Linked DNA regions of Homo sapiens. The protein of the gene in region 4 purifies or fractionates together with the protein of the main gene of each other region. This does not show direct contact. Each region holds a gene or a part of one and is shown on either strand. Other genes may lie near its edges.

Region 1 (3,500 bases), on a different chromosome or scaffold from region 4:
AAGTAGCTGCAGAAACTCCAGCCTTCTTTCCAGCTTCGTGGTCAGCTGGAAGTCCTAACAGAAGTCTCGTATTGAACCAGCCACTGTGGCCAGGGAGAAGTAATCCTCTGATAGTTGAGGTTCTTTGCTCTCCTCTGGAGCAGATAGTGGTGTCTCCTCCCCACAAAGCTCATGTTCTGCTGGAAGAAATGGAGATGGCGCCCTGGAAGGCTATTGTAGGGCCATTAAGAGAAGCAGGGGGAACGGACGTGGGCAGCCAGAGTAGCCCATATCCACCACATCATACAGGGAGGTTTCTTTTTGATCCCTAAGTAAAGAATGATAACTGGAAAATAAGATCCATGAAAGAGAAGAATACTCCCATTATATTAAATGAGCGGGGATAGTTCCTGAGACACATTTTTATTAAAGTGCATTTTCAGGATTTTCCTTCATATGTATAAAGCACACCTTCTGTTGCTGTTAATGAAAGCTAATAACATTAAAAATATACTTAAGTGTCAACTTGCAACAGCACAGCCTTTATTTTTTTAAGTACATGGTGAGTAAGCAACATTAAATAATTAGTTCTTGGACTGGTGTTTTTTCTTCCAGTGTGAATCTGGCAACATTGGCTCTGGGTTATGTCTCCTCATCAGTGCTGGTATGTTGTTGATTTACTGAATATTGGTGTTTTTAAGAATGAATTTAAAGTCACTCAGTCCCTCATGGCTCTTCACAGTTTTTATGAATGGAGGAGGGTGTTAGGTTTGTGTATTCTGATAATCTAACAAAGAGTTGTTCTTGTTTTGGTAGGCTGCAGCCAAATGTGATAGCATGACGATGACTCCTGGCCCGTGGCTGGGTTTGCCAGCTGTTCCTGCGGTGACACTGTATAAACACGATGACCCTGCCTTGGTAAGTTTCCACTCACTGGGGAGGGAGTGGGTGTGGCTAATACACATTATTGGCTTTGGGGGCAAAATCCAGAAAAATACAGGAAAAAGTGAAAAATACCCATAATTTCACTTCTATTTCATTTTTTTAAAGAGAAACTTGTGAGACTTTTTTTAATGACATTTTATGATTGTATAATATTCTGTCACAATTTAATTATTCTCCATTTATGAACTTATAGGATGTTTTCAGAGTTTTGTTACTGAAATAATGAAGCAGTGAACGTCTTTCTGTGTTTCTAATTATTTCCTTAGAATAGGTTCCCAGATGTGGAATGACTGAGTGGGGGAGTTTTAAGCCTCCTGATCCACATTGCCCAATAGGTTTTAACTTTTTTTTTTTTTTTTTGATATGGAGTCTCGCTCTGTCACCCAGGCTGGAGTGCAATGGTGAGATGATCTTGGCTCACTGCAACCTCCACCTCCTGGGTTCAAGTGATTCTCTTGCCTCAGCCTCCCAAGTAGCTGGGATTACAGGCATGCGCCACCACGCCCGGCTTATTTTGTATTTTTAGTAGAGGCAGTGTTTCACCAAGTTGGTCATGTTGAACTCGCGATCTCAGGTGATCTGCCTGCCTCGGCCTCCCAAAGTGCTGGGATTACAGGCATGAGCCATCACACCTGGCCACATTTTTTTTTTTTTTTAATCGTAGTTGTGGGCCAGGCATGGTGGCTCATGCCTGTAATCCCAGCACTTTGGAAGGTTGAGGCAGGCAGATCGCTTGAGCCTAGGAGTTTGAGACCAGCCTGGGCAACATGGTGAAACCTCATCTCTATAAGAAAAAACAACAACAAAGAATTAGCTGGGCATGGTGGTGTGAGCCTGTAGTCCCAGCTACTCATGAGGCTAATGTGGGAGGGCTGATTGAGCCCTGGAGATCAAGGCTGCAGTGAGCTATGATCACACCACTGCACTGCAGCCTGGGCGACAGAATGAAAACGAAACCTGTCACAAAAAATAATAATAATAATGTGGTTCTTGATAATATAGGTCAGCGTGCAAAATAAGGTTTAAGTGATTTCTGCTAAAACACTGCTGTCTTGCTCAGCTAATAATGGCCAGGTGTTTGAGGATGCTCAGAGCTACCTTCGAAGTGGGGAGTCTCCTAGGTTCTGGGATGTGACCCATCTGGGTTTTCCACTGGCTTTTCCTGGCTTTGCCACTCCTGAGCTGTGAACCCTTGGACAAACCGAGGTCTCTGAGTGAAGTTACCTAGAATACTTAGCTCACAGAGTTGTTGGAAGATCACATGGATAATGCAAGCCTAGTGACTAGTATGGCATCTAGCCCACACTAAGTGGGTAGCAAATGGTAGCTGGTTAGTTCTATTATGAGATTGCAATGGCTTTGATTAATAAACCTCTTTTGGCTTTTTTAGACTTTAGTTGCTGGTCTTACATCAAATAAGCCCACAGACAAACTCCGTGCCCTGCCTCTGTGGTTATCTTTACAATACTTGGGACTTGATGGGTTTGTGGAGAGGATCAAGCATGCCTGTCAACTGGTGAGTAGAAGCCTGACATTTAAATGAAAGACTCCTTGGCCACAGCAGAGACAGAAAAACATCTCATTTCTGTACCTTCCATCCAGAGTGGTGTTGTCTGGATTGACTGTCTCGTGAGCCAGAGACTAATCGCCCTGCATGTAAATATTTCTTGTTCAAAGTTCTGGGAGAAAGTGCTGGGTTGTCTGTCCCAGCATTTGTGTGCAGATGAAATCAGATGAAAAGGAACACCACTGTCAGCATGGGATCAGAAAAGAAGTCACAGATGACTTCCAAGGAGTGGAGAAGGGTGCAAAAGGTGGAGGGGTGGGGAGCGAGTGTTCCCCTTGATTGACTGACTACGGTGAGGGAATAGGAAGGTTACAAGGTGGTTATGGAGGGCATGGATATTTTATAAACCAGCTGGCTTGGGTTTCCAAATTGCAGGGCTCTTGGGGACAATTCTAATTCTCTCTCCATTTTAGGTGTGTTCTAATTGTGAAAAATATATAATTATGCTATATTTCAGTGTTTTAGAGCATTCAGGCTTCTATAACAAAATACCTTAGAGTGGGTAATTTATAAACAACAGACATTTATTGCTTACAGTTCTGGACGTGAGAAGTCTCAGATCAAGGTGCCAGGAGATTCCATGTCGGGCCCGTTCCTCATAGATAGTGCCTTGCATGTGGCCTCACATGGCAGAAGGGGTGAGCACAGTCCCTTGAGCCTCTTTCAGAAGGTCACTAGTCCTGTTTGTGAGGGTTCCATCCTCATGCCCTAATGACCTCCCAAAGGCCTCAACTCATTTGCGATTAGGTTTCCACATAGGAATTTTGTGGGGACATAAATATTCAGATCATAGCATTTAGAAAGCAAAAAAACAGGCTGGGCATGGTGGCTCACGCCTGTAATTCCAGCACTTTGGGAGGCTGAAGCGGGTGGATCACAAGGTCATGAGATCAAGACCATCCTGGCTAACACGGTGAAACCCCGTCTCTACTAAAAATACAAAAAATTAGCTGGGCGTGGTGGCGGGCGCCTGTAGTCCCAGCTGCTCAGGAGGCTGAGGCCGGAGAAT
Region 2 (3,500 bases), on a different chromosome or scaffold from region 4:
GCTTGAACCCAGGAGGCAGAGGCTGCAGTGAGCCGAGATCAAGGCATTGCAGTGCAGCCTGGGTAACAGAGCAAGACTTTGTCTAAACAAAAACAAAAACAAAAAATTCTTTTTCTCAGAATAGCTACATTCATCTCATCATTATATAAAAGACTTACTAAAAATTAAAGCCTTGGATTTGACTCTAGGTAAAGTGCATGGAGAATAAACATGAATCATTATTTGTTTTAGTATACTATTAGTATAATAATTGAAACAGACTACTCATATTCCTGCTTATGTGACATACTTGTTTTTGTTTTGTTTTGTTTTTTTGAGACAGCTTCTTGCTCTGTCACCCAGGCTGGAGTGTAGTGGCATGATCATGGCTCACTGCAACCTCTACCTCCTGGGCTTAAGCAGTCCTCCCATTTCAGCCCCTCAAGTATGTGGGACTACAGGCAAGTGCCCTCATGTCCGGCTAATTTTTTAAATTTTTTGTAGAGACGAGATTTCGCTGTGTGACCTAGGCTGATCTTGGTCTCCTTGGGCTCAAGTGATCCTCCTACCTCAGCATCCCAAAGTGCTGGGGTTATAGGCATGAGCCACCATGCCAGGCCTGACATACTTGTTTAATTAAGAGAAGTAGGCAACAAAATAACTTATTAATATAATACATAGATGATTGAAGGGAATTTGTTTTGTTGACTGCTCTATTTTTATACTGCCTAATAAAAGCATCTGGGATCTTTGTTTAATAACTTATTTTTTCTTTTTCAGAGCTATCCATTTTTTATTTTGCCCTTAAAAAAATTCCTTTTTTTTTTTTTTTTTTTTTGCCACAAGCATTTAACTGTGAGGTATTTAGGAAAACCTAGTTTTTTTTTTCTTCTAGAAACTTTTTGTCTCTGGGTGCTTTCCAGTTACTTTGTGCCATTTAGAGCAATGCCAGGCATTCATTTAATATTTTCATAAACATGGCTTTTTTTTCATATTTAAACATTTGAACTTTATTTTGATGAGTGAAGGGTTAAAAGAGATACACTACCTTTCTCCTTATTTAAGACCTCGCCTCTCTCACCCAGAAAATAATCATTAATACTGTATTTAAAATTCTGAACATCCTGTTTGAGGCAAAATATTTGCAGAGTACTGCTTCTTTTGTATGTTTTTCCAGAGATACTCTGTATATGCAAGCATGATTATTGTCTCTTATCTGCATAGGAATAGATATTAAAAGTATTATTACTGTAATATATTCATCATATTCTTAACTTTATGTTTAGACCCCTCGGAGACAGAAAAAACTCTTTTGCCGCTACCATGATGGAAACCGTAATCCTAAATTTATTCTGGCTCCAGCTAAACAGGAGGATGAATGGGACAAGCCTCGTATTATTCGCTTCCATGATATTATTTCTGATGCAGAAATTGAAATCGTCAAAGACCTAGCAAAACCAAGGGTAAATAATGTTTTCTTTCTTTCTCCTCAATTTACTGTACCTTTGTATCAATTTTTCTTTGTAAAAAAATAGGATAATTGATATACGAATAATGCCACAGATTTTTTAAAGATATTTTGCCTCAGCATAATGGAGTTACTAATGATGCTGTGTTTATGCCAGTTTTTCCATTTGTTATCAACACAAGTAATGTACCCTTAACTGGGTTTTAAGCACTGAATTATGAAAATTATTGTGAGATTTTTATTCACCATTAACAAATTTGTGTTTCACTGTCTTCCTGATAAACTTTTCTCTGTATTTTGGAGTCTTTTAATCTCAGAGGCTACTCAAAGCCCAGCTTTTTCACTTCTGTATTTTTACTGAAAGAATACCGTGGAAGTATTTTTATTCCCTTTTAGGCACATTGTTACTATTATAAAAAGATATAATTGGGCACAAGTATTATGTTAATTTGAAATGGTGATAGTTTTCTGACTTTAACCCACAGAATTTATCTTAAAAAGAAAAAGAATCTAACGTAAACCCAATCTATAAGCTTAGTGTTGAGCATAAAAACTCTTTAGTGAGAATGTGGAAAAGACTACCCTTTATGCTCTTGCCTTTTCCCCCATCAGCTTGTTCTTAAAACATATTTGGTCTTCTTGATAGTAAAATACAAGCTGCCATCACTTTCATAAAGAGATTGTTGAATAAATTCTAGGCATGCTTTGCTGTCTTACACAGGAGTTGGCAGATTTTTTCCATAAAGGTCAATATTAGATATTTTTTAGGCTTTGGAGGCCATATGATCTCTGTCATGACTATTTAGTTCTGCCATTATAGTGCAAAAGCAGCCAAAGAAAATATGTAAATGAAAGAGTGTGGCTATATTACAGTAAAATTTTATTTCCAGTGGCAGGTAGCAGGCTGAATTTGGTCTGTGGCCATAGTTTGTTGACCCTTATTATATCAAAGGTTTGAATTATCTGGATATCTATACTACAAAATGAAGTTAGAATTTCTTTTAGAGTTTTTCTGCTTCTCCAAATTGGTGGTTTTTTTTTTTTTTGGCCAAAGATTACATTATAAATGCAAAAGACTGGTCTAACATTAATATATATTATTGGTGCCATCCAAGGTAATTAATTCATTTCAACTTGGAGATCAAGTTATATTCTGGAGATTCCTCAATTTGGATTGTTTTTGATCAATAAATTTAATGGCAATAAAATTTCATGCTCTCACAACCTCAGAATCATCGTTCCATTAAAAAAAATTGAAATTATTATCTAGGCGGTCACCTCTTTCTTGCTGTTTTTAACATTTATGAGCTCTTTTCCTCTGCCTTTGTTCTCAGTCCAAGATTATTTCACTGTATATGTTAATGAGAGTGGCTATCTTGAAGGGACAAAAGATTGACCTTAAAATGAATTTTAAACATTAACCTGTGCAAACAGTTCCATCACTAAAAAAAATTAAAGTCAAAGGTTTTGGAATGGATCATTAATTGCAAATAGGCATTCTTCTTTTTTTCCCCTTCTCTCCCCACCCCCAGATGGCTATTTTAACTGTAAATTAGACTTCAAATTTTAGATATGTCTCTTTTTCTTACTGTCATGTCCTTTCACCATTGAAAGAAATTTAATTTCCAATCTCTTTTGTTTGTATGTCCTCCATCTATGCAAAACAAAAAATTGAAGAAAAAAAAAAAACCCCAAAAACCTAAAAAACTAACTGGCTTTCAAGGCTCAGCACAAGGTGACTGGAAGTGTATGGAGTTATTTTCTCTTTTTAGCCTCCTTTGTAAAAACCCTGGAATTCTGACTGGTTGGGTAAATGTGATTCAGTTTTTTGTTTTGTAATGCAACTATTTTGATGGTTGGCTTCACAGCTGAGGCGAGCCACCATTTCAAACCCAATAACAGGAGACTTGGAGACGGTACATTACAGAATTAGCAAAAGGTAAGAGATGTGTATGCTGCATATTTTGCCCTCTAATGAGTGTTTTATACATCTTACAGGAATTATTCATTTAAGGAAAGTGGGTCATTTTCAGTCACCAGCTCAAGTCACCAC
Region 3 (3,500 bases), on a different chromosome or scaffold from region 4:
ACTTCAAATTTACTAGACAGTGAAATATAAATGAGATGGTATGAAATCACTCTGAAAGTATTAGGGTTGGATATATTATGTAAGTTTCTATAATTAGAAAGCATTAAGTCCCAAATCGTACCAATAGTTTTAATCATATCTAAATGGATACTCACATACTAAATGTGATTAAATATAAAATGCATAACGAAATGTCACATCCTTTCCTGATAGAATACTAATAAGGCATAGTATTTCATGTGCAGGAAGATACAGGAAAACACACAAGTAAGAGTTTGTTTTGCATATATAAATTGTTATGCCTTTGAGATTCTTTTCTTCCTGATGGTAGGATTTGGAAACCATTGGACTAGATGATGTCTAAATTTCCTTTCAGTTCTAAAAATTACTAAATATCTTGCCCTTATAGCTTAGATACTGTCTCCAATAGGTTAAAGGCTCAGAGATGATAACACTTTCTGTTTAAAAGTTTTTAGAAACTTACTTTTGAATATAATGAAAATTAACTTTGAGGCATGCACTGTTTTGAAATCTAAATGCCTCTAAATCTACTTCAGACAACCCTTGCAGTTCTTGTTTCAAGGGAGGCAGAACCGTGTCTGTTATGCAGAGATCTTATATTAAACTTGCTGGGAAAATTGCCAGTGTGAATAAAGAAGTGAATATTCCTGCCAGGTAGGTAGGTATTTTATGATCTTTCTGTTGGCTGAAAGTGGTTGACTAATAAAGAGACAATGAAACACACTTAACTATTTGTATTTTTATGTTATCTTTCGAGAAAGTTTGTTTTCTATATATGAGTTAGTTTCTGCAGTCCCTTATGCATTTTTTAAGACCTGGAAATCCGTCCATTATAGTCGAAGAAGGCAACCCCAAGTGTTAACTGAATTAAATCCTAGCAAGTTCCTTGATTGTTATTCCTTAGAAACATTGTGTTTAAAGGTCTCAAGTTGTAAACATTCATGGTACTACTTTGTTATCTGTTAGGTCCATTTCTTTTCCTTTTTTTCTTTTAGATCTTTAGAATTTCAAACATGTACAAAAATAGATTAAGTAATGAATAAACCCCTGTGTATTCATCATCTAGTTTCAGCTACACCCTTGCTACTTATTAATTTAAAAATAACCTAAAAATTACATTGCAAACTAGAATTTTCTAGGACCTGAAATGTAGTCAGTAGGGGTTAGTTTATATGAGTAAAAGATAATATTTGGTTCACATGTAATCATGTTGAAATTACTTGAAAAATAAAGCTCTTGGCCGGACGCGGTGGCTCACTCCTGTAATCCCAGCACTTTGGGAGGCTGCGGTGGGCGGATCACGAGGTCAGGAGATCGAGACCATCCTGGCTAACACGGTGAAACCCCATCTCTACCAAAAATACAAAAAATCAGCCAGGGGTGGTCGCCGGCACCTGTAGTCCCAGCTACTCGGGGCTGAGGCAGGAGAATGGCGTGAACCCGGGAGCCGAGAACATGCCACTGCACTCCAGCCTGGGTGACAGGGCCAGACTCCGTCTCAAAAAAAAAAAGCTCTTTAGAAAAAGGCTTTCAAACTTTTTTGTCTGTGACCCAGATAGAGAAGTAGTTTTTGACTAATAGAAATTTATAACAAAATTACACAAATATGTAATATCTTGTGAAACATTACCTATTATTAATCTGTGTGAGGTAGTTAAGAGAACCATAGTGACCTTCTAAATTGAATTCACAATTCATGGGCCGTGAAACTCAGTTTGAAAAACAGCATTTTCAGGTATGGAGTAGTTTGGGGCTTTTGTTTATTTTTTACATGCCATGTTAGTCTGGAATAATTATGATTTTTGTTAACACAAGGATTTTCACTAGACATTTATCAGTAATATCAGCATATACTGTTATTAGTCATTATGAGTAAAGAAAATAAAACATTTTGGATTTATACATTAGCCATTATATATAGCGATTTTTTTTCCTTTTAGAACTTTAGAAAAAGGGGAAGCCACAGTAATTTGAATATAATCAAGACATAACTTTTCCAGTATATTCAGTTGACCTTCCTTTTAAATTAGACCTTGTGTTCCTTATTCCTGAGCCTTTGAGTTTGCAGGGCTGGGAGTACTAATGTTTATTCTAAGCCAAATGCTTTACTTGGTTGCTGTAGTCTGAGGCACATTTCTGTTGAGTACAGATTGACTTGAATACTGGCCAAGGGAAGAGAGAGAGAGGGTAAGCAGAACCATCACTAAAGAATCATCTGCCGTTCATGTTTAAGATCCTAGAGTAGTGGGATTATTTCCTAGTTTTTAGACACTGCTTCCTGGAGGAAAAAAAGGCAACAAGATGTCCTCCTTTGTTGGCAACTATCTGTGAAAAACTTCTAAATTCATAGATTGAAGGAATGTGTTAAATTTAACTTGGGATTTTTTTGATTATACGAGTTTAGCAGGTTTGGGAATCATTGCCGAACAACTGGAAAAAAATAGCACAAGGAGCTCCAGCATTGAAATTATATTCATTAATGCTGAATCTCAAATCGTGCATCAAGGGAGATGAAATAAATGGCCTTAATGCAAACCAGGAAACTGCTACCTGGAAAAAAGCAAGTATAAAGAGGTTTCAAATAGCTTGCAGTGAACTGTCATTGAATTACCCTTACACAAATAACATAGTGATCACGTATCAAAAGTATGGTGCTAACCTAACAGCATTACTGTTTTCTACTAGGATTGAACTCCAAATAAGAATACTTTCTAACCACATTTTGGAAGAGACATAGAATCTATGTTGATGGTAGCTTAAGATTTAGGAGAAAAGCCTGAAGGAGCTAAACTTAGGAACAGGGAGCACTAGGGGGATGTGATTATCTATTAATACTTTCAAGGTAGCAGTGTAAATGAAGTAAGGGAATTAGGCAGTCTCCAAAGATGGATGGGCTGTATCAAAGAGCAATGGCCTAGAGCACAGGGAAGAAAGCATAGGTTTAGTATTAAGATGATTTTAATGAAACTAGCGGAAGAATAGAGTTATTTGCACTCATCGTCAGAACCATTATAAGTAGGACAAAGAGCTGGTTGAGAGGGTACTCAAAAACAGAAATGATCTCTTTCTTACATAGTACTGTGCTTGTTTAGAAGCTCAATGAGAGAAAAATATGGAAATGAATATGAAATGAAATGGACTTTTCAAAAGTTAGTGTGTTTTTCTGTTGTTTGTTTTGTTTTGAAACAGGGTCTCACTCTGTTGCCTAGGCTGGAATGCAGTGGCGTGATCATTACTCACTGCAGCATCAACCTTCCAGGCTCAGGTGATCCTCCTGCCTCAGCTTTCCAAGTAGCTGGGACCACAGGCGCATACCTCCATGCCTGGCTAATTTTTGAATTTTTTGTGGAGATGAGGTCTCCCTATGTTGCCCAGGCTGGTCTCAAACTCCTGGACTAAAGTGATCCTCCTGCCTGTGCCTCCCAAAGTGCTGGGATTACAGGCATGAGCCACAGCCCCCCTGCCAGCCAGAAGTTTTT
Region 4 (2,768 bases):
CAGTTACCTAGAGGAGGAATGCATTTTGTCTCCGGAGCGTATTACCTTTTCCAAACCCCTCAGGGAAACTGGCAAGTGAAGAACAGGTGGGAGGTCTCTCAGTCGACTCCTTTTTTTTTGGAGATAGAGTCTTGCTCTGTCGCCCAGGCTAGAGTGCCGTGGTATGATCTCAGCTCACTGCAACCTCCGCCTGCCAGCTTCAAGCAATTATCTTGCCTCAGCCTCCCGAGTAGCTGGGATTACAGGCACCTGCCACCATGCCTGGCTAATGTTTGTACTTTTAGTAGAGAGTCAGGATGGTCTCGATCTCCTGACCTCATGATCCACCCACCCTGGCCTCCCAAAGTGCTTGGATTACAGGCGTGAGCACCGCGCGCGGCCTCTCAGTCGACTCTTGAGAGGAAATCATAAAGGCCAGTGTGCATGGCGAGCTCGTTTTGCACCAAGCACTGTGCTAAACATTTTATGTACTTTATCTCATTGACTCATCCTAGCAACCCTTCATGGTAACTACTGTTATTCCCTCCACTGGCAGGCGAGGAAGTTGAGGCCTGAGAGAGGTTAGTTTAGTTTGGTGGTTAAGAGCACATGCTCTGTGGTCATGCTGGCTGGCCCTGAATCCTGGCTCCACCACTTAGTACCTTGTGACTTTGGGAAAGGTGCTTCCCCTCTAAGCTAAGTCTCAGTTTCTCCACCTGTAAAGAGAGCATGATACACCCAGGCACAGTGGTCCATGCCTTCTAATCCCAACACTTTGGGAAGCTGAGATGGGAAGATCCTTTGAGGCCAGCAGTTCAAAACTAGGCTGGGAAACATACTGTCTTTACAAAAAAATGTTTAAAAATTAGCCAGGCATAGTGCCACGCACTTACCGTCCCAGCCACTCAGGAGGCTGAGGTGGGATCGCCTGAGCCCAGTAGTTTGAGGCTACAGTAAGCTGTGATGTCACCACTGCACTCCAGCCTGCATGACAGAGCAAGACCCTGTCTCTTTAAAAAAATAAAATTAAATTTAAAAAAAGGTGTGGTAACAGTACTGATCACAGGCATCCTCTGGTAAGCATTTCCTAAATGCTTCCCTTCCCTTTCCTGAGGCATACTTCTAGTATGCAGGGCAGCCAAATACAAGCTCAGGTGTGTCCAGCCTCAGAATCTCAAACCTCAGCTGCTTTGATCCACTGCTGCTTTTGCTCAAGAAAGAAGCAAAGCTTTGAAATGGAATGTTTCTGAGTCACAATTTGATCCATAAAAACATGAGCTAGACATACAGAGGGTCCTGGCTAAGTCTGACAAGTGCTGGCATACTTTGGATTCTGTTAGGCACCTTCCTGCCTGCTGCCTTGCTCCCTCCGGCTCTGGCCCCGGGGGTCTGTGGCTGCCAGTAGTTGCTGGAGTTAGGGGCTCCAGCAAGCTCATGTGGGCTCATTTCTGCTCTTAGCCAACCCTTTCTTCTTTCCCCATTCTTCCTCTTTATGCCCCCTGCCCCTGCAGTGAGAAAAAACGCAAGCCTGCATGGACCGATCGCATCCTGTGGAGGCTGAAGCGGCAGCCCTGTGCTGGCCCCGACACTCCCATACCGCCGGCGTCACACTTCTCCTTGTCTCTGAGGGGCTACAGCAGCCACATGACGTACGGCATCAGCGACCACAAGCCTGTCTCCGGCACGTTCGACTTGGAGGTGAACTTCTGGGCTGCCTGATACTTGCCAGAGGAATAGCTATGCTGGCCACATCCCCAAGCCCTCCATCCCTGGATTCGAATGTCAGCCAGTCCCCCAGGGGAGACCTGTGGAGGCCATGATTGCCTTTCCTGCCAGGTCGGATATCCCAGCTCCTCTTAGGAGCCGTTGATGGCTCTGTCTGTCAAAACCGTGTTCAAACCCTTTGTGAAAAGGTTTCCATTTCCTTTGGGTATTCTCCCTTGGGGCTAATGAGTTCCATTAGGCTTATTACCCAATGTGAGAAGTAGGACTTCTTTTATTTGTCCTAAATCTATCTGGATCAAGTTGCAACGGGCGCTCCCTCCATCCCTGCGTCCTTGTATCTTGCTATCTGAATGACCAAGGTGGTGTTGGCCTCCTTCAGGCTGCTGCCCCTCAGCCTTCACGTTTTCATACAGGTTTACTGGCGTGTGTGTGTGTGTGTTAGGGTCTCGTTCTGCCGCCCAGGCTGGAGTGCAGTGGCGGTATCATAGCTCACTGAAGCCTCCACCTCCTGGGCTCAAGTGATTGATCCTTCCACCTCAGCCTCCCTAGTAGCGGGACTACAGGTGCACGCCACCACGCCTGGCTGTTATGTATTTTTTGTAGACACAGGGTTTCACTATGTTGCCCAGGCTAGTCTCGAACTCCTGGGCTCAAGTGATCCTCCCAAACTGTTGGGATTATGGGTGTGAGCCACCGTGCCTGGCCCCCGCTGGTATCTGCGTTGTGTTCTTGCACGTTCACAGCTGTTCTCACCAGAGCATCCCCCCATGTGGGGCTTTGGGTCAGATAAGGCGGGAGGCCTGAGAGCAGCTGCCTGGCCGCCTCCTTAAGCCTCTCAGCCGTGCCTCTGCTCTCCGCCATTCCTACCCCCCAGCGCTGGGCCCCATGGGATTCCGACAGGGCCAGCCACCCGCCGACTGGTGTTCGGCCCTCTTTCCTGATGGCCAGCCAAGGTCCGTTGGAGCAGCCCAGTGGAGTTCCATGCCCACCCCCTCTGGGTGCCCCACCTTCCCCACTATGTTGGAAGGGCACAGTGAGGAACACTTGGCCTCAGAGGAGGGAAT
Region 5 (3,500 bases), on a different chromosome or scaffold from region 4:
ATGAGAAGCCACCAAAGAATTTCATGCAAGGGCATGAGGTAATCTGATTTAAATTTTAAAACGATCACTGTAGCTCCTATGTGGTGAATCGATTATAAGGGAGCAATAGCAAGAGGCATGAGGAGACTGATGTAGGGGTTTGTTGCAGTGGTCCAGGTTCAAAATAGCGTGGCCTGGACTAGTGATCTCAAAAAAATGAATGGGCAAACCTACTCTTTCATAAGTGCAAGGCTGCCTGTAAGGAAGAAAATTCTTATGCTTTTAAGCAATGAAAGCGTCAGATGTAGCTTAACACACCTGTGTGTTGCTCAGCCCTTAGAGCTGTGTCACTGCCATTTCTCCACAGCTAGCATTGGGCCATCTTAACGTGAATCATTCACTGCCCCTGTTTCAGGAACCTTAGCCTCTTTTGTGGCCTCAGATAAGAAAGAGATAAGAAACACATAATAGAATAGTGTTCTGTAGATCAGAAGGGACCTTTGCATCCTGAGACTGAGGTACATGAAGGCCGCCCCTGAGCATATAGCGAATTGCTAATATTTATTGGGGGTGTACTGAGAGTGTTTGTTTATGTTCATTAACTCATTTATGGTCTCAATCCTCACAATTCCTGGCACCTGTCTTCATTTCACAGAGAAGCTTGAGACTTACAAGAGGTTAAGTTACTTGCCTGTAGTTAAACATTAACCTCACAGCCCCATATCTGCAATTCCAAACACCCAGAGCTCTGGAAACCACAATTTGATTGATCCCTTTTCTTTTAAGATTGGTGCAGATTTATTTGGCAGAAAAACCTGATGAAGCTTTTAAAAATCATTTTTGTTCGGCTGGGCACGGTGACTCATGCCTTTAATCCCGGCACTGTGGGAGGCTGAGGCAGGCGGATCACAAGGTCAGGAGTTCAAGACCAGCCTGGCCAATATGGTGAAATCCTGTCTTTACTAAAAATACAAAAATTAGCCGGGTGTGGTGGCATGCGCCTGTAGTTCCAGCTACTCAGGAGGCTGAGGCAGGAGAATCGCTTGAACCCGGTAGGCGGAGTTTGCAGTGAGTCGAGATTGTGCCACTACACTCCAGCCTGGGCAACAGAGCAAGACTCCGTCTCAAAAAAAAAAATTTTTTGTTCATCTCATTTGGTGTGAATATTCATAGATATTGCCACAGAAATATTAATGTGTTTAATTATGGATTACTGCCTTGGACCCTACTGGAAGTGGTCTGTAATATTCAGTATATTCAGTTTTGCCTTTTTAAAATGTAAAGACTTCTGAATTTTAAAGCTGGAACCTGACCCTAAGGATGCCAGATAAAGGATTATGGAGCTGAAGTAAGTGCCAAAGGTTGGGTTCAGACCCCAGGCTTTCTGGCTTCAACACTGTGTACATAACTTTTATACTAGAGAGAGCATAGGTGAGGTTAGGCTCTGCTCTTTGTCCTTTGAGTGACACAAGTACACTGACTCTGAGCCATCGCCAGACAGAGACATTTCTTGCAAGTTATAGTCAAATAGCTTTGATCGTTCCCCAAATTCTTGCAGCTCTCATACTGCCCCGCAATGTGGATGTAGCCCACTGCATGGTACTCCACCCGGAAATCCTCCATGCTCCAGTGCCTCTTCTTACTTTTACGCCAGACTTCCTGTTCCTGAGTAGATCAGTGTCAGATGGGTGTTAGGAAGAAAGTAATCTAGCTGAAGTAATTTAGGCTCATCAAGGTGTGAACAAACTTCTTAATATTCATACAGCCGTCTGCATTTTTAAAAGAGCATTTGTTTACCGGGCTACTCTCTCTCTAATTGGAGACAGGTTGGTTGGGCACTTCAACTAATAGATTAAAAAAGAAAGAAAATCTAAGCCGCGTAAGAGAAAATACCTAAATCACCCCATAGACGGGTTTGCTGAATCTGGTGGACTGCCTGCCTTCATCTCTCACTTTTCTTCCAAACTGTTCTTTCTTTTTCTAGCTTTTCTTCCTTCTTCCCTGCCCAGCATATAAGTTCTCAGAATCTCCATACATATCCCTCTCCCTTGTGTGGGATAGTAAGGCTAGATTAGTTGCGATAGGTTAGGCTGTGATTTGATAACAAATAGTCCCTACATCCCAGTGGTTTAAAAGACAAAAATTAATTTTTCTCATGTTACATGGCCATCGGGATTTGCAGAGGCAGGTCTCCTGTGCCACACCATCCTCACCTAGGGACCCGGGATGACGGGGTGCCACCATCTGGAGGGTGGTTAGTTGCTTTAATGAAGGAAAGGGGAGTTAATGAAGGGCTCTTAAGGGGTCCACGTGGAAGTAGGCACACACCCCCTCTGCTCGTGTTTCTTTGGCCAGGGAAAGCCACCTAGGCATTCCTAGCATCAAGTAGACGGGGAAGCGTGAGTCGCCTGTGTGCCTGGAAGTAGTGGAGGACCCAGTATTGCCTATGGGCAGTAATGCCTCCTACTGCAGAGAATATGGGGGGAAAGAAAACCGAGGAGACCACTGATGGTTTCTAAGTCAGGTCATGTATTATGAATAATGTACTGAAGTGATTCTCAAGCTATGAATAAAAATAAAAATTAGACAGTGGTGGGTCATGCTAATAGGGACTCAGCAGCTATGAAATAATGAGGCAAGAATTTTTTTTTCCCAAAAGTTTGTGTTTGATACATGCACAGATCTAGACCTCAGACCCTTTCTCAAAAAGCCATCAATAGCTACAAAACTAAGATGTTTCTGGTGAACTGTTTAAAGAGGGATGAGGACACCGAGGTATCTGTGTCTGTGCCAGAGCTACCACCAAGGGACTCTCTCCTCCCCTTGGTCTAGTCGGCCCCTCAGCCCTGGTGTCCCCACAGCCAAGGTGCAGGGGATTAGGTGTTCTCCGTGGCTGCTGATGGGGACAGCAGGAACTAGGAGAGGCCCGACATTGCTCCTTTCTTTTGTAGGCCGGTCTCTTTCCAGGGCCCAGGGGTTTCAGCCTCATAGTAGCTATCATACAGTTGGCCAAGAATTTTATTACTGTGCTGAAATCCTCTTTAAATTGCTCCATTCTCATGCTAATCTCTAGTAACAGATCGGCCAAAAACATCTATAACATCTCCAGTATTGCTAGAAATCTGACGTGCCTCGCGCCACTGCACTCCAGCCTGGCGACAGAGTGAGACCCCGTCTCAAAAAAAGAAAAAGAAATGTTCAACTTAGAGACTTGATTTAGCCATTACTTCAGTGGAGCGGGTAGGAGGGAAGAGAGGAATTACTTAAATGTTTAGAAAAGGCGGTAAATATCTTAGGGGATCTTGGAGATCTGGGAACGGTATACAGGGTTTTGTTTGTTTTTATAGGGGTTAGATATGGTCATAGTAAATAGATTAGATGTGCATGGCAGTGGAAAAGATATCGTAACTTCAAAGTAAATGTGGAATTTTTTCCAGTCATAGAATAGGAATAAGACTCTTTCTGGTGTGGATAAAATGGAAGTGGCGCACACAGAGTCCTCCGTGCTATGCCTGTGGTCT
Region 6 (3,404 bases), on a different chromosome or scaffold from region 4:
CGAGGCCAGAAGGAATTTAATTGAGTGGCTGAACAAGTACATGTAGCAAGAATCAAGGGCAAGCCTTCCTAGAATAGCTTTCATCCCAAAATTTGCTTGGAAATAGTTAGATCATTTGATTTAATTTTCACTTTTATAAAATAAGTGTAGGAATCCTAAAATTGATTATTTCATTTGAAACACAAATTCAGTAGGACGTAATGCATGAAATAATTTAATTTTTGACATGTACATCGAATCATAATTTAAAAACAAGGTCTGACCAGGTGTAGTGCCTCATGCCTGTAATTCCAGCACTTTGGGAGGCCAAAGTGGGTGGATCACCTGAGGTCAGGAGTTTGAGACCAGCCTGGCCAACATGGTGAGACCCCATCTCTACAAAAAATACAAAAATTAGCCTGGTGTGGTGGTGCACGCCTGTAGTCCCAGCTACTTGGGAGGCTGAGGCACAAGAATCAATAGAACCCAGGAGGTGGAGACTGCAGTGAGCCAAGATTGTGCCACTACTGTACTCTAGCCTGGGCAGCAGAGTGAGACCCTGTCTCAAAAATAAATAAGTAAATAAATAAATAAATAAAATAAAAACCAGGTCAGTACCTGGAGAATTTGAATGATAGAGAATGATAGAGTAATACCCTAATTATTAGTTAAAACCTACAGGCCGGGTGCGGTGGCTCACGCCTGTAATCCCAGCACTTTGGGAGGCCGAGGTGGGTGGATCACTTGAGGTCAGGAGTTCAAGACCAGCCTGGCCAACATGGTGAAACCCCATCTCTACTAAAAATATAAAAATCAGCCGGGCATGGTGGCATGTGCCTGTAATCCCAGCTACTCAGGAGTCTGAGGAGGAGAATCACTTGAACCTGGAGGCAGAGGTTGCAGTGAGTCGAGGTTGCGCTACTGCACTCCAGCCTGGACAACAGAGGGAGACTCTGTCTCAAAAAAAAAAAAAAACCTACAGCTGTTCAAGGACCAGCTGACAGGTCAAGTGTGGCCTTTTCTGGTCTTTGAACACATCATAGAAAGTGACAAATGCTGCAAAGCCATGAAGAACATGAACTATAAACGGGTAGACTAACTGCCCAGCTTAGACACTTATCTATGCCACAAAACAGCTGAATTTGTCACATTTATATATTGCAATATGGGAAGTATTGAGATCAAAACAGGATTCCATTGACCTAATTATATTAAGCTAATAAACTAATTTTTTGAATTTTTGAATTTGCAGCTTTTTTAAAAAGATAGCAGAGAACGGTGGGCTAGAGTTGTCACCCAGCTGTTGTCTCCTAAGCAGTGGATTTCCAAGCACTGGCATTTTTGGGTCCCAGGGCCTGAGGCTACCTCAGAAATATCTCCTGTGTTTCTGGTGGTGGCGTAAAGGGGAGAGCCGGTGAGAAACTCTGCACCTGCACCTACGGGGTGCGTACATGTGACTTTGGGCAAGTGACTTGATGTTGTAGTTTTTTTCCTAATTTTGTCTTGACGTCCTTCTCAGGAGAGAGTGGCTGTAAACTCTAGCCCTGCCCTGACGGGGATCCTGGGGATGTGGTCGTGGGTGTTTCCCATGTGCCTTTCATGGGATCCTTCTTTGACCTCACAGACGGCCTGATTCCTGAGTGTCCAACCTGTGGCCAGGTGTCCCTCTCGCAGGAAGCTTGTTTATCCTGGCACATGACCTTGTGGCTCTCATCTGACCTGTGTCCAGTTTATTCCTACTGAGACAGCCACTCTCCCGGAGAGCCCTGACCGGGAAAGAAGTTAGGATGGGGTAGAGGAGGCAACTCATCAGAACCCAAGAAATGACAGAAGCAGTTTATTGCTTACAGATCCAGAGAACAGAGGGCAGCACGCTTCACAGGGCCAGCAAAAAGGGGGAGCCATTCAGGACACATGGGCTCAACCAGAAGGTGGAGAACGAGAGAGAGAGGGAGCTATGAGCCAAAGCCTTCACTGGGGCCCAGGGTGTCATCTATGCAGGTTTCCCCTGGAGGTTCTAACTGGGGGGTTTAGAGCAAGCAGGCATGAGCCCCGGGGACTCACGCTGTGACTGAGAGGGGTCGGTGTGGGTAGGATATCGGCATGGTCCATGTGGGTGTGGGGGTCAGTGGGACAAGTCAAGCAGGTGGTATCCAGCTGTCCATGGGAAGGTGGTCCCAGGAGGCGGTTTTGTAAGGCAGATGTCTGGATCGACCACCTTGGGGAACAGTGAGAAGTTGTATAACTGGAAACTGTGTTACTAATCCCTGCTTCTAGTATGAGAAAGTCCAACTTACATTCAAATAGATGCTCAGGAAACATAAAATTCAAAGAATTCCCAAACTTGAGCTTCCTGAGCCTCAGTTTTTGCATCTGTCAAATGGGTATGGGGAGACCCTTTGCCTAATGTTGAGAGAATCCAAGCCTGAGCAGGGCTGGTCTACTGTGGACACTTAGTTGTGGACCCCAACAGGCCAAAGCCCTTGCCTGCTGAGGGCTGCTCCCAGGAGGCCTCACACATTCATCCGGCCTCCCAGGAAACCCCTGAGATGTGCTGGGCTTTTGCCGTGGAACGGTGTCGGTGAGCATGTGGCCAGTAGCCAGAGTCTTCAACATAGGTGGGAGGTCTGAAATTCGTGCGAGAATGAACCAAGGGTGTGGCTGTATCCTTCATGGTGAGCTTGGGGCCTGGGCAGCCTTCCCTCTGCTGAGTCCTTTGGTCAAATGTCATGGTGTTCTGAACCAGCACTGCAGATAGAAGTATAATGTAAGTCACACACGTACTTCTTTAAAAAGATATGTTCTTCAGTGACTATTAGACAAACAGATAAATGAAGGTAAAGGGAAAAAATGGCAACTTTAGCTTTTTTCCCCATGTATGTAATTTTAAATTTTCTTATAGCCCCATTAAAAAAAGGAAAGAGACACAAGTGAAATTAATTTTAATAATGCATTTTAGCCCAATTTATCACAAATGTTCCATCAGTGTGTAATCAATGTAACGAATCATGAGTGAGATATTTTGTATTTTTTTTTTTTTGTTCCTCTATCTTTGACATCTGGTGTGTATTTTCTGCTTACACATATCTCCATTTGGATGCTAACTTTTCATCAGAAGTACTTGATTTGGCCAGGCACAGTGGCTCATGCCTGTAATCCCAGCACTTTGGGAGTCTGAGGTGGACTGATCATTTGAGGTCAGAAGTTCAAGATCAGCCTGGCCAACATGGTGAAACCCCATCTCCACTAAAAATTCAAAAATTAGCTAGGCATGGTGGTGGGCACCTGTAATCCCAGCTACTTGGGAAGCTGAGGCAGGAGAATCACTTAAACCCGGAGGTGGAGGTTGCAGTGAGCTGAGATGGTGCCATTTTACTCCAGCCTGGGCCACAGAGCAAGACCATCTCAAAAAAAAAAAAAACAAA
Region 7 (3,500 bases), on a different chromosome or scaffold from region 4:
CTTTATTTCACACATTTGGATGTGCCATGAGTTAAATCATGTTTATACAAATATTATATACAGTAATAGCTCAATACAATATGGTAAACTTAGACATCAACATTAATAATACAAGAAAAATATACAAAAGCCAAAGTTTAAAAAAAAACCTGAGTACTATATAATCATTTTTGCAGTAATTACTGTTCAAAAATATCTAAGACGACTAATATGAATTTACACTTTTACTGCTCAATCACTAAATTTGAACTGACGAAAGTATTTTATAAATGTAAAATAAAACTGTGAGTTTTAAAAATCAACTGTCTTTACAGCATGAAGTTTAAACTGACCAAAGGACAAAGAACTGCCTCGTTTTCCCAGCAACCAGCCAACCTTAAGCATCTCCCTTGCTTTAAGGCAAGAAGAGGGCAGGACGGAAGCTGGCAAGGAGCAGCATGTCCCACTGTGGTCTTGGTGAGTGGGAGCACATAGGAAATTTTTCTCATTTTTCTATCTCCTTTACCAATTTCCCCAACTAACATGGAAAGCAGAACACTACCTGTCCTTACCTGTCCCAATTAAAACCAATACTACAAATATGGTTTCTAAACATGCATACTTATGGGCTTACAGAATTCAAAAAATTATAAGATAATCATCAAAATTTAACAGTCCAGTTTTAACTTACAAGAACAATTAACAGTAAAATTATACATTGTGAGATCCACTCTCTAACACCTAATATATTTCTTATTTTGAAAACAGTAATTGGAGCTAGTGTCTTATTTATAATAATCAGACTTAAAAATGAAGTCCTGGCTGGGCATGGTGGTTCACACTTGTAATCCCAGCACTTTGGGAAGCTAGAGTGGGAGGATTGCTTGAGCACAGGAGTTTGAGACCAGCCTGGGCAGCACAGCGAGACCCTGTCTCTACAAAAATCAAACAATTAGCTAGGCATGGTGGCACACGCCTGTGGTCCTAGCTACTCGGAGGCTGAGGTGGGAAGATCACTTCAGCCAGGAAGGTTGGGACTGCAGTGAGCTATGATCGTGCCACTCTGGCTACTGCCCTTCAGCCTGGGAGACAGACTGAGACTCTCTGCCCCCTCAAAACCCTCAAGTCCTGTGATTTTGCTCCTTCCTCCAAGGTATTCACAATTTGGATCTAGAGGCTGATATTCTTTAAGACCTTCACTCCCAGAACCTTCCCTCTTGAAACTGCACTGCCACACAAACTCCAGAGCCTGCCTGCTTTCTCCTGCGTGGTGTCAATCACACCTGAAGCTCCTCAGGCCCATGCCCCTCCACCCCTGCCATCGATCCACGTGCCACCCCCCTGCCTGCTGCAGGCACCTGAGGCCTGGCAGAGGTTAGCCTAGTGATATAGTAGGTCAGGATGCTGAGAGCAAGGGTGGGGATACTGCGTTTCTATAATCTCCAGCTTAAGCTTGAAATGCATTTTCCCATTAAAAACAACATACAAAGGATATTACGCTCCTTACAAGGGCTAATATTTTCACTGATATATTGTGTGGCATGGGCTTTTGCAGACTGGTCTGAAAAACCAACTGCTTTCATGATATAGGGGAACATGTTTTACAGGTATCTTTTAGATTGCTGCATCGTAAGTCTTTCATGATGAAGAAGAAAAATAAAACAACTAAAATTTGAATTAAAAAGAAATAAAAAGGCAAATTTGACCATGTTATAAATGACAGGTACCTTTCTTATTTCTGTATCATGTGCTATCCATCGAATTACTGCTTCAAAGACATATCTTTCATTGCCAACGTTTAACTTCTCAAGAGAAATCACTTCTTTAAGCTTTTGAGGACTCAGCTCTAAGAATTCTTCCGTGCTGCTGACGTCTCGGAAATGAGTCTCCAGGTATTCTGTGGCAAGGTAATGAACGTGATGGAGGCAGTAATGTAGTGCAAAGTCACGGATACCAATACAGTTCTCAGCAGCAATGCAGCCTTCCAAAAACTCACAGCACAGGGTTTTAAGGTCCGTCAGTAGCAGCAGGTCAGCTGCCTGAACAACATCTTGGATTGTATCTTCATTTAGCCTGATCTAAAAAAGTAGCATAATTATCTTATATTTGAATGTGTACATTTAAAACCCAAACCACTAACCTATTAATTGGGGCCACATGAAATTTCCATTTATTTTAGATCAAAGATAATCGAATATTGGCAATTTCATATGGTTTAACCCAGCATTTTTTTTTTTTTTTCCAAGAGTTGGAAGGCACCAACATAAGCAAATGTGTGCTTGGTTAACTTTTCCCAGCTCTGCCCTTGCTGTACCAATGTCAACCACCAATAACCCTTTTAGGGTGAACTGTCCATGTTGTTCACTTCTGTAATTCAGAGAAAAACCTTAATGACTCAAATGCTTGGGAAATGGAAAGTTCTACATTCTATGGTAAAGTCAACATGATTAAGTACCAGCATCAGAACTGATGAAAATCTTGCCTCCCCACCTATGAAGTTCACTCTTCCGCTAAATGGCATGCCAACCTGAATGCTAACCCCTTGAAGGGAGAGGGGTTTCCAGTGTTTCAGAAGCCTCATTCCGCATCCCAAAACACTGTACGCAGTGCAATTTGGTACACAGACAGATACACTTAGGTCTCAAAACTACTTTTTGGAATAAATCCCTAATACAAGGGTGTTTTTTTTTTCTCATTATGAACATCTACTTTTCCTTAATTTTCTTCAATTTTCTGACTAATGCTTCTTCCTCCACTGACTTCACAGTGCTCCAAAGCATCAGGAAAGAAACAGTTCTCTAAAATATTGCCACAGTCCTAAGTGGACGACCCCAAAGCATGGGCACTTCACCCACATTCGCAAATGCAAGGGAGACTTCATGAGGAGTATAGCAAGAAACATTTTTACATTTTACACTTTTTGTACCACAGATTTTTAAAAAAGTATAATTGCCAATCATCTTAGAAACTGAGCAACAAAAATGTGGAAAGTAGTATGGTGAGTAAGCCACAAGTAGGGGAAAATGTTCCATTTATATGACATTATATTTAGCCACAAGACAGCAGGCAGCTGTAGACTCTTCAAATATAGGCACGTGAAAAAAACACTCAACTGCATTTCAATAAAACAAAACTGCCAATTCAGGAGTTTGTTATAACTTACATTCCAACTATCGTTTTTTTTTTTTTTTGAGACGGAGTCTCGCTCTGTCGCCCACGCTGGAGTGCAGTGGCGCAATCTCGGCTCACTGCAGGCTCCGCCCCCTGGGGTTCACGCCATTCTCCTGCCTCAGCCTCCCGAGTAGCCGGGACTACAGGCGCCCGCCACCTCGCCCGGCTAATTTTTTGTATTTTTAGTAGAGACGGGGTTTCACCGTGTTAGCCAGGATGGTCTCGATCTCCTGACCTCGTGATCCACCCGCCTCGGCCTCCCAAAGTGCTGGGATTACAGGCGTGAGCCACCGCGCCCGGCCCCAACTATCGTTTTAAATTTAAATTGGGAACAAATCACAGAACTCAAT

The links.
Region 1: the proteins of INPP5K (region 4) and PDXDC1 purify together in Homo sapiens (co-immunoprecipitation; one large-scale study listed by IntAct). This does not show direct contact.
Region 2: the proteins of INPP5K (region 4) and P4HA1 purify together in Homo sapiens (affinity purification with mass spectrometry; one large-scale study listed by BioGRID and IntAct). This does not show direct contact.
Region 3: the proteins of INPP5K (region 4) and NPTN purify together in Homo sapiens (co-immunoprecipitation; one large-scale study listed by IntAct). This does not show direct contact.
Region 5: the proteins of INPP5K (region 4) and FSAF1 purify together in Homo sapiens (affinity purification with mass spectrometry; one large-scale study listed by BioGRID and IntAct). This does not show direct contact.
Region 6: the proteins of INPP5K (region 4) and CMBL purify together in Homo sapiens (co-immunoprecipitation; one large-scale study listed by IntAct). This does not show direct contact.
Region 7: the proteins of INPP5K (region 4) and GAN purify together in Homo sapiens (affinity purification with mass spectrometry; one large-scale study listed by BioGRID and IntAct). This does not show direct contact.

What each region holds. Positions count from the first base shown.
Region 1 is NC_000016.10:15,016,526-15,020,025, forward strand, and holds part of PDXDC1 (pyridoxal-dependent decarboxylase domain-containing protein 1), read left to right. Parts: intron 1-594; coding exon 595-643; intron 644-795; coding exon 796-897; intron 898-2,314; coding exon 2,315-2,440; intron 2,441-3,500.
Region 2 is NC_000010.11:73,044,867-73,048,366, reverse strand, and holds part of P4HA1 (prolyl 4-hydroxylase subunit alpha-1 isoform 2 precursor), read left to right. Parts: intron 1-1,265; coding exon 1,266-1,442; intron 1,443-3,315; coding exon 3,316-3,386; intron 3,387-3,500. UniProt on the Homo sapiens protein: Catalyzes the post-translational formation of 4-hydroxyproline in -Xaa-Pro-Gly- sequences in collagens and other proteins.
Region 3 is NC_000015.10:73,623,390-73,626,889, reverse strand, and holds part of NPTN (neuroplastin isoform b precursor), read left to right. Parts: intron 1-3,500. UniProt on the Homo sapiens protein: Probable homophilic and heterophilic cell adhesion molecule involved in long term potentiation at hippocampal excitatory synapses through activation of p38MAPK. May also regulate neurite outgrowth by activating the FGFR1 signaling pathway.
Region 4 is NC_000017.11:1,496,845-1,499,612, reverse strand, and holds part of INPP5K (inositol polyphosphate 5-phosphatase K), read left to right. Parts: intron 1-1,490; coding exon 1,491-1,677; intron 1,678-2,768. UniProt on the Homo sapiens protein: Inositol 5-phosphatase which acts on inositol 1,4,5-trisphosphate, inositol 1,3,4,5-tetrakisphosphate, phosphatidylinositol 4,5-bisphosphate and phosphatidylinositol 3,4,5-trisphosphate.
Region 5 is NC_000001.11:231,231,176-231,234,675, reverse strand, and holds part of FSAF1 (40S small subunit processome assembly factor 1), read left to right. Parts: intron 1-3,500.
Region 6 is NC_000005.10:10,277,095-10,280,498, reverse strand, and holds the end of CMBL (carboxymethylenebutenolidase homolog), read left to right. Parts: coding exon 1-46; 3' UTR 47-2,904; downstream 2,905-3,404. UniProt on the Homo sapiens protein: Cysteine hydrolase. Can convert the prodrug olmesartan medoxomil into its pharmacologically active metabolite olmerstatan, an angiotensin receptor blocker, in liver and intestine. May also activate beta-lactam antibiotics faropenem medoxomil and lenampicillin.
Region 7 is NC_000016.10:81,352,962-81,356,461, reverse strand, and holds part of GAN (gigaxonin), read right to left. Parts: intron 2,058-3,500; coding exon 1,707-2,057; intron 1-1,706. UniProt on the Homo sapiens protein: Probable cytoskeletal component that directly or indirectly plays an important role in neurofilament architecture.